Homo sapiens: one gene and its partner. The protein of the gene in region 2 interacts with the protein of the main gene of each other region in a pairwise test. Each region holds a gene or a part of one and is shown on either strand. Other genes may lie near its edges.

Evidence for each region. The genes of interacting proteins can lie anywhere in the genome.
Region 1: the proteins of SDCBP2 (region 2) and LYAR interact in binary tests that used the Homo sapiens proteins (3 or more experiments, as listed by UniProt).

What each region holds. Positions count from the first base shown.
Region 1 is NC_000004.12:4,269,472-4,273,222, forward strand, and holds part of LYAR (cell growth-regulating nucleolar protein), read right to left. Parts: intron 1-3,751. UniProt on the Homo sapiens protein: Plays a role in the maintenance of the appropriate processing of 47S/45S pre-rRNA to 32S/30S pre-rRNAs and their subsequent processing to produce 18S and 28S rRNAs. Also acts at the level of transcription regulation.
Region 2 is NC_000020.11:1,327,646-1,331,396, reverse strand, and holds the start of SDCBP2 (syntenin-2), read left to right. Parts: upstream 1-2,257; 5' UTR 2,258-2,312; intron 2,313-3,751.

The DNA.
Region 1 (3,751 bases), on a different chromosome or scaffold from region 2:
CAGGAATTCAGGGGTCTCATCCACACAGGCCGGTCATGAGGCTGCCCCTGCTGTGATGTCAGTGGAACCTGCACCAGGAGCCCTGCCCGGCAGGAGCAAGAAGTGGCCATCCTCAGGTGTGGATGGAGGCTGAGTAGAGAGCCTGGACTTCCGCCCCCACCTGACAGCAACAAGGCCGTGCCCCTCCACAACCACCAAAGTCATGTGAGAGAAAGCCAGTTAAAACAGAAAGCGTAAACAGGATCTCACACCTTACAAAAACAACTAACTCAAAATGGATCATGGACTTCAATAAAAAATGTAAGACTAGGAGGCATTTAACATAGACCTGAAATTTGCTGTGAGGATATATCTTAAGTGTTCTCAACACACACACACGTAAACTATGTGAGGTGATAAATGTGTTAATCAGCTTGATTGTAGTCACTATTTCACAATGTACATGTATAATAAAACATTAAGTTGAGCTGGGCATGGTGGCTCATGCTTGTAATCCAGGCACTTTGGGAGGCTGAGGCAGAAGGATTGCTTGAGCCCAGGAGTTCAAGACAGGCCTGGGCAACACTGCAAGACCTCCGTCACAAAATTTTAAAACTTCGCTGGGTGTGGTGGTGTGTACTCGTAGTCCTAACTACCCAGGAAGATTGCTTGAGCTCAGGAAGTTGAGGCTGCAGTGAGTCATGATCACACCAATGCACTCCACCCTGGGCAACAGTGAGACCCTGTCTCGAAAAATAAAAATAAAATACAGTAACACATTAAATTGTACACCTGAACTACATAAAATGTTGATTTGTAAAAAAAAAAAAAAAAAAAGTTATCCATTAAGATAATTTAGAAAACAAAAAAATCTTTAGGCTCTAGGGCTAGGTAAAGAGTTGTTAGCACAATCCATAAGATAAATTGATAAATTGAACTTTATCAAAATAAAAACCATTTGCCCTAAAAAGACTCTGTTATGATGAAAAAACAAGCAAAAAGACTGAAAAAAAATTCACAAACTGTTATGTCCCACAAAGGAGTACTATTTAGAATAAATTTAAAAACTAAAATCTCAACAGTTAAAAAAAAAAAAAACCCACAAAAACAACAACCAAAAAAACCCCAAACAACTCAAATTAGAAAATAGGGGAAAAAAATTTAAAAAAAGAGAGCAGACATTTCAACAAAAACATATACAGATAGCAAATATGCACAGAAGAAGGTGCTCAACAACATTAGTCATTAGGGCCACACAAATTCAAACCACAATGAGCGGTTACCACACATCTATCAGAATGGCGAAAATACAACACAGTGGCAACGCCTAATATTGACCATGATGTGGAGAAACTAGATCCTTTACACACTGCTACTGGGAATATAAAATGTGTACAGAGACTCCTGAAACAGCTGACAGTTTTTTCCTTTTTAAATTTTTGTGGGTACACAGCAGGTGTATATGGGGCACGTGAGATATTTTGATACAGACATGCAATGTATGATACTTACATCAGAGTAAATGGGGTATCCATCACCTCAAGCATTTATCCTTTTGTGTTACAAACAATCCAATTATACTCTAGTTATTTTAAAATGTACAATTAAATTATTATTGACTACAGCCACCCTGTTGTGTTATGAAATACTAGATCTTATTCATTCTATTTTCTTGATACCCATTAACCATCCCCACCTCTCCCACAGCCTCCCACCACCCTTTCCAGTCTCTGGTAACCATCCTTTTACTCTCTATCTCCATGAGTTGGCAACTGTTTTGATTTTTAGATCCCACAAATAAGTGAAAACATGCTATGCTTGTCTTCCTGTGCTTGGCTTATTTCACTTAGCATAATGACTTCCAGTTCCATCCACGTTGCTGCAAACGACAGGATCTCATTCTTTTTATGGCTGAATAGTACTCCGCTGTGTACATGCACCACATTTTCTTTACCCATTCATCTGCTGCTGGACACATAGGTTGCTCCAATCTTGGTTATTGTAAATAGTGCTGCAACAAACACGGGAGTGCAGGTATCTCTTCAACACAGGGATTTCCTTTCTTCTGAATATATACCCAAACAGTGGGGCTGCTGGATTGGACGGGAGCTCTATTCTTAGGTTTCTGAGGAACCTCCAAGCGGTTCTCCATAGTGGTTGTACTAATTTACATTCCCACCAACAGTGCACCAGCGTTCCTTTTTCTCCACATCCTCGCCAGCATTAGTTATTGAGCTGGTGGTTTCTTAGAAAAGAAAGAATATGCAACTACTGTATGACACAGCATTGAACATTCGCTTCAGAAAAACTGACTTAGTTCACACAGAAACCTGCACATCAATGTTTACTGCAGCTTTATTCATTAATAACCAGAGACTAGAAACCACCCAGGTGTCCCTCCACAGGTGAATGATGAAAGGACTGTGATGCACGCACAGCACGGGATACTCCTCACCAATAAGATGAATATTGGTCAGTTCAGCAACCTGGGTGAATCTCCAGAGAAAAACGCTGAGCGAAGAGTCAGTCTCAAAAGGTTACATACTGTATGATTCCATTCATAGAACATTCGGAGATTCCAGAAATGAAGAACAGATTAGTGATTGCCAGAGGCTAAGGAGGGGGTGGGGGTGAGAGGGAAGTGGCTGTGGCTACAAGAGGGCAGCAGGAGGCAGCCTTGCGCAATGGCGATGGAAATGGAAGCGTATCCATGTCAACATCCCGGCTGAGATGCTGTACTACAGTTGTGTAAAGTGTTATCCTGGGTGGCAACAAGGTAAAGGGTACGCGGATACATAAGGACGCCTGAGTCTCCATTATTTCTTACAACTGCATGTGAGTCTACAAGGATCTCAAAACAAAAAATGTAACAACAACAACAAAAATAACCATTCCAGTTGTCCCCCTTGATCTGCAGGGGACAGTTCCCAGACCCCCAGTGGATGCCTGAAATCACAATGGTACTGAACCCCTATATATACTGTCTTTCCCTAAATATTCATTCATGCCTATGACAATGCTCCACTTATAAATGAGGCACAGTAAAAGATTATCAATAACTAATAATAAAATAGAACAATTTTACAATACACTATAATAAAAGTTATGTGAATGTGGTCTCTCTGTGTCTCTCTAAATATCTTATTGTCCTATCCTCACCCTTCTTGTGGTGAAGAAGGCATACAGCAGGACAGCAAGAGATCTCGCCATGCTGCTCAGAACAGCATGCAATGGAAAACTTATCAATTGTTTATTTCTGGAATTTTCCATCCCACAGATATGGGGACACTACTGTTTACTAAGTTGAGAAGGGGGTTTTAAGCTTAGAGATCTAACCCAATGCTGGCAGTCACTGAACTCTGCTAATAAAGCTGCAGGCCCATTTGAGTCTTTGGACCTGTTCTGAACTGCAGGATCCTGGGGGTTGGGGGAGGTGGCAGAGAGATGACGACTTGCCACCTCCCGACAGGTATGAGTGCTTCAGGCCTGAAGAAGCAGGAGAGAAGCTTTGTGTAAGAGACAGCATTTCAGAGGGCCCGTGAAGGCCAGGGACTGGATTCTGAGGTTGAGGATACAAGCAAGGAGACCCCAGAAACAGGCCCAGAGATGGGCAGGGGCACAGTTCAGGGGACTTCTAAGAGAACAGTGAAAGGCAGGGGCAAGAGAGTTGGGGAGGAGCGAAAGGGAACCGGGTCTCAGAAAGCTATATTGGGCTTATTTAAATTTCAAAGATAACATACATTTCCAAACCAGACTGCTTTACTTTTCTCCT
Region 2 (3,751 bases):
AAAGAATGGAACAGGAGCGTCTGATCCAGAGTCAGAGGCGGGAGAGGCCACATGGATGTGGGGGATCCCAGAGGCTTCCTGGAGGAGCTCAGTGGTGGATGTGGCTAGGTGGGTGGGGGCAGGAGAAGGTGTTCCAGGGGCAGCAGCAGGACAGGCAAAGGTATGGAGTCAGGGCAGGTAGGAAGTGGGTGTGCAGTGGGGCAGGAATGGTGGGGCTCCCAGTCCAGCTGAGGCAGAGGTGCTGGGGGAGTGCTGAGGAGGTAATAAAGGGAGTGGGCTGTGGAGGTCTCCATGTCAGCCCTGGGAGTTTAGCCCAGACCCTGAAGCAGGAGGGAGCCACTGAAGAGTTCGAGCAAGGGCATGCCCAATGAAAGATATTTCCAGGTGGCTGGAAGTCAGTGATGGGTGGCAACTATCCAAAGAGGGAATAGAAAGAGAGTCCCTGTAGGTATTAAATAGGTGGGAGTTAGGGGACCTGGGCTCCATGCTGACATGCTGGGACCACAGGCAAGCCCCTTACCTGGAAGGGCCTGCTTCCTCCTCCCTCTTCTATAAAGGCCCTTTCAGGTCATGACTGAATGAAGTGAGGTGGGGGAGGAGTGGCTTGGTTTAGTTAGGATCTCTATTTTCCACTTTGCTTTGGCCTTGGACACCTGACCTAAGGTGGGTCCATCACCCACGTTACCTCAGCTTCAGGCCCACACAGCTTACTCTGAGGTTGCCCCACACCTCAGCTTTCTGAAACAGTATGTCCCATAGAAGAGAAGACATGAACTTGGCCCACTTTCCAGCTAACTTGAGAGAGAAACTTTGCCTCTGTGCCTCAGTGTCCCCACCTGGAGGAATGGTGTGAGTCACACCTACTCTGCAGGGATGGCATGAGAAGCCATTGAGATAATGCCTTTAAAGTGCCAGGGGTAGAATCTCTGTGCTCTCTGGGAGTAAGTGCTGAATTAGTGGCAAATGTCTTTCTTGTTATTATTCCTATTGTGTGTTTCCTGTGTGGGACTCTGGGCTGTAAGCTCTTCATTGGCAGGCACAAGATCTGACACCCAAGGCTAGTGCAACTCTGCCAGGTGGGTCATGGGAACTGTGACGTAGGCCTGCCTGGCCCAGGAAGCAGCCCAGATACTGACACACCCTGAGTGTGTACAGCGTCAATCCTCATGGGACTGCCCAGCACACGAGTCCCTCGTCCCTCCCCAGGCACCCAGTGCGACAGGCACCCTCACCCAACCAAACCCACCAGGATCTAAACTAAATTCTTCCTCCTTTTCTGTTCAAATTTATATAATTATTTTTGGAATAAGTAGTACATTTAAACTTTTCAAAATTTAAGACACCAAAAATGTGCCATAAAAAAAAAAATCTCCACCTCAGCACACAGCTCCTTAGGTCTGCTCCCAAGAGACAACCACTCTAAATTCCCATTAAAATAATCAAACTTAATTGCTTCCCCCTTACAAAAGTCATGAGCATTCAGAGCAAAAGCTAACTTAAAAAAAAAAAAACCACCTTGGAACACACAAAAGTACAAACTGAAAACCTCACCCTCAATGCTGCCATTCAGAGATACTCAGCATTTTAGCGTATGTCCTCCTAGACTGCTTTCAACGCACATCCACTTTACAAAAAATGAAAACAAAATGCAAGAAGAGATTCACAATATTGATTTTTCAACATCTCACTAGAATCTCAGAAATGTTTCCTCATACCTTCTTCCTTAAGTGACTTTAATAGCTCTGTGATCTTCCACAGACAATGATTTATTCAAGCAGACCACAGAGATGGGCATTTGGGATTTCTACATTTTCCTTACTAGAAGCAGCAGTGATGGATGGGCCCTGTGACTCCACTGTAACAAATTCCTAGAAGAAATGCTGGGTCACAGGATATGACCACTTTTTAATATCCTGGCCTAGACCCCTAGATACCTATCACAAACCGCCCTCTAGCCAACTGCCTCGATCAGCAGGACTAGGTGTCCAACCCAAATTTAGAGCTATTTAAGAAAAGGCCAAGAAGTCTTGGTTCATAACCGTCTGAACAGCAGCTGTGAGGGCCTTAATCCCACCTCCAAATCCAGACTAAGGCCAAAGGCCTCCTCTGGGCTGGCAACCTGCCTTGTTTACCCAGCCACAGCCCTCACCTGTGCCCATCCCAGTCCAAGGTGAGTCAGCTGAACAGGGGACAGGCACCACCCTTCCCAGATCAGGAAGCCAGCTGAGAGACAGGGCTACGTTTCAGGGAGGGAAACAGATTCAGCAGCGGCAGCAGCTGGAGAAGGTCGTGGAGCAGCACCTTGCCTGCAGGTAAGCGCTGGGGGCCCTGACCCAATCCTGGCTGGGATTGGGATGAGTGAGACCTGCTCTCACCCTGTCCCCTTCCCTCCCTGCCCCTTCCCTTCTGGGACTTCCCAGGCAGCTTCCTTTCGAAGTGCTTCACTCCAAGCAGTCAAGTGTGAAGTGGGGTTTCTTCTTCTGATCCCAGCCCTGGACCAAGTTTGATTAAGGGCTGAGTGATTTTCTTCACCCAGACATCATGAGGGCCCCCGATGCCTTCTGACTGCCCATGACTGTGCTCAAGGAGATGAGATCCACACTTTGCTCCTTGAAAGGCCAATTCCAGCCGAAACCAGAGGCTGCAGGCAGGCAAAAAGCCCATTTCTCCCAAGGAATCCACAGCTCAGGCCGACTTCTCTGGCCTGAGGCTGTTTCTATCAAAAAACCTTCCTGCCACAGCACTGAAACACCTGCTGGGGAACTGCGCCAGGGGCTTCACCTTTCTAAGAACTGGTTTCTTCATCTGGAGACTGAAAATAGCCCACAAAGTCAGGAGAATGGAAGGACATACTGGACACAGGAGCCAGTGCATGCCCTCCTCAGCAGGGTCTCAGAAAATGGGGCAGAAAACGAGCCTGGTATGGGCTGGGCGAGCACTGGACAGGCAGCTTCACGTACAGTGGCCCAAGCTCATGACAATTCCACCACCATCACTTCCCACCTGGGCTCCTGCTCCCACTCCTGCCCTGTAGCCCATCCTCCAAACATCAGCCAGAGGAGGCCTGTCAAAATAACCCTTGGACCTTGGCACTCTGCTGCTACAAATCCCCCAGTGGCTCCCATCTCACTACAGTAAATGCCAAAGTCCTCACCATGACCTCCAGGCCCTCCAGGATCTGGCCCCTCTCACTTCTCCAGCTTCCTCCCCACTACTCCTCCTTACTCCCTCTCTGCACAACTGGCTTCTCACTGGCAGATGTCCTCTAAACACAACACCAACTCCCACCTGAGAGGCTCTGCAATGGCCGTGCCCACCCCATTAGGCCTTTCCTCAAATGTCACCCCACCCAGCCAGCAAGGCTTCTGAACCTCCTGACATGACCCTCCGTCCTGCTCTTTCTCTCCAGTGCCTCCCACCATCTAACACAGCACACAGAGTCACAAAGCCTATTTATCCAGCTCTTCCCCCAAAGAAAGTACATTTGGGGACCAAGTCTTCTTTCCTTCACTGCTGATACCTAGAACAGTACTCAGACTTAGCAGGTGCTGAGTAAGTAAGCGCTGAAACAATGAATAAACAGCTAACTTTTACTGAATGCCTATTATGTGCTAGGTGCTGTGCTAAATGCTTTCCATATACACCTTAACTCTTTTTAAAAATCTTTCAGTCTCCAGACAACTGTGATGCAACTATTGTTATCCAGATTACAAAGGAAGAAATGACATTCAAAGGGGATTTGCCTATGCTG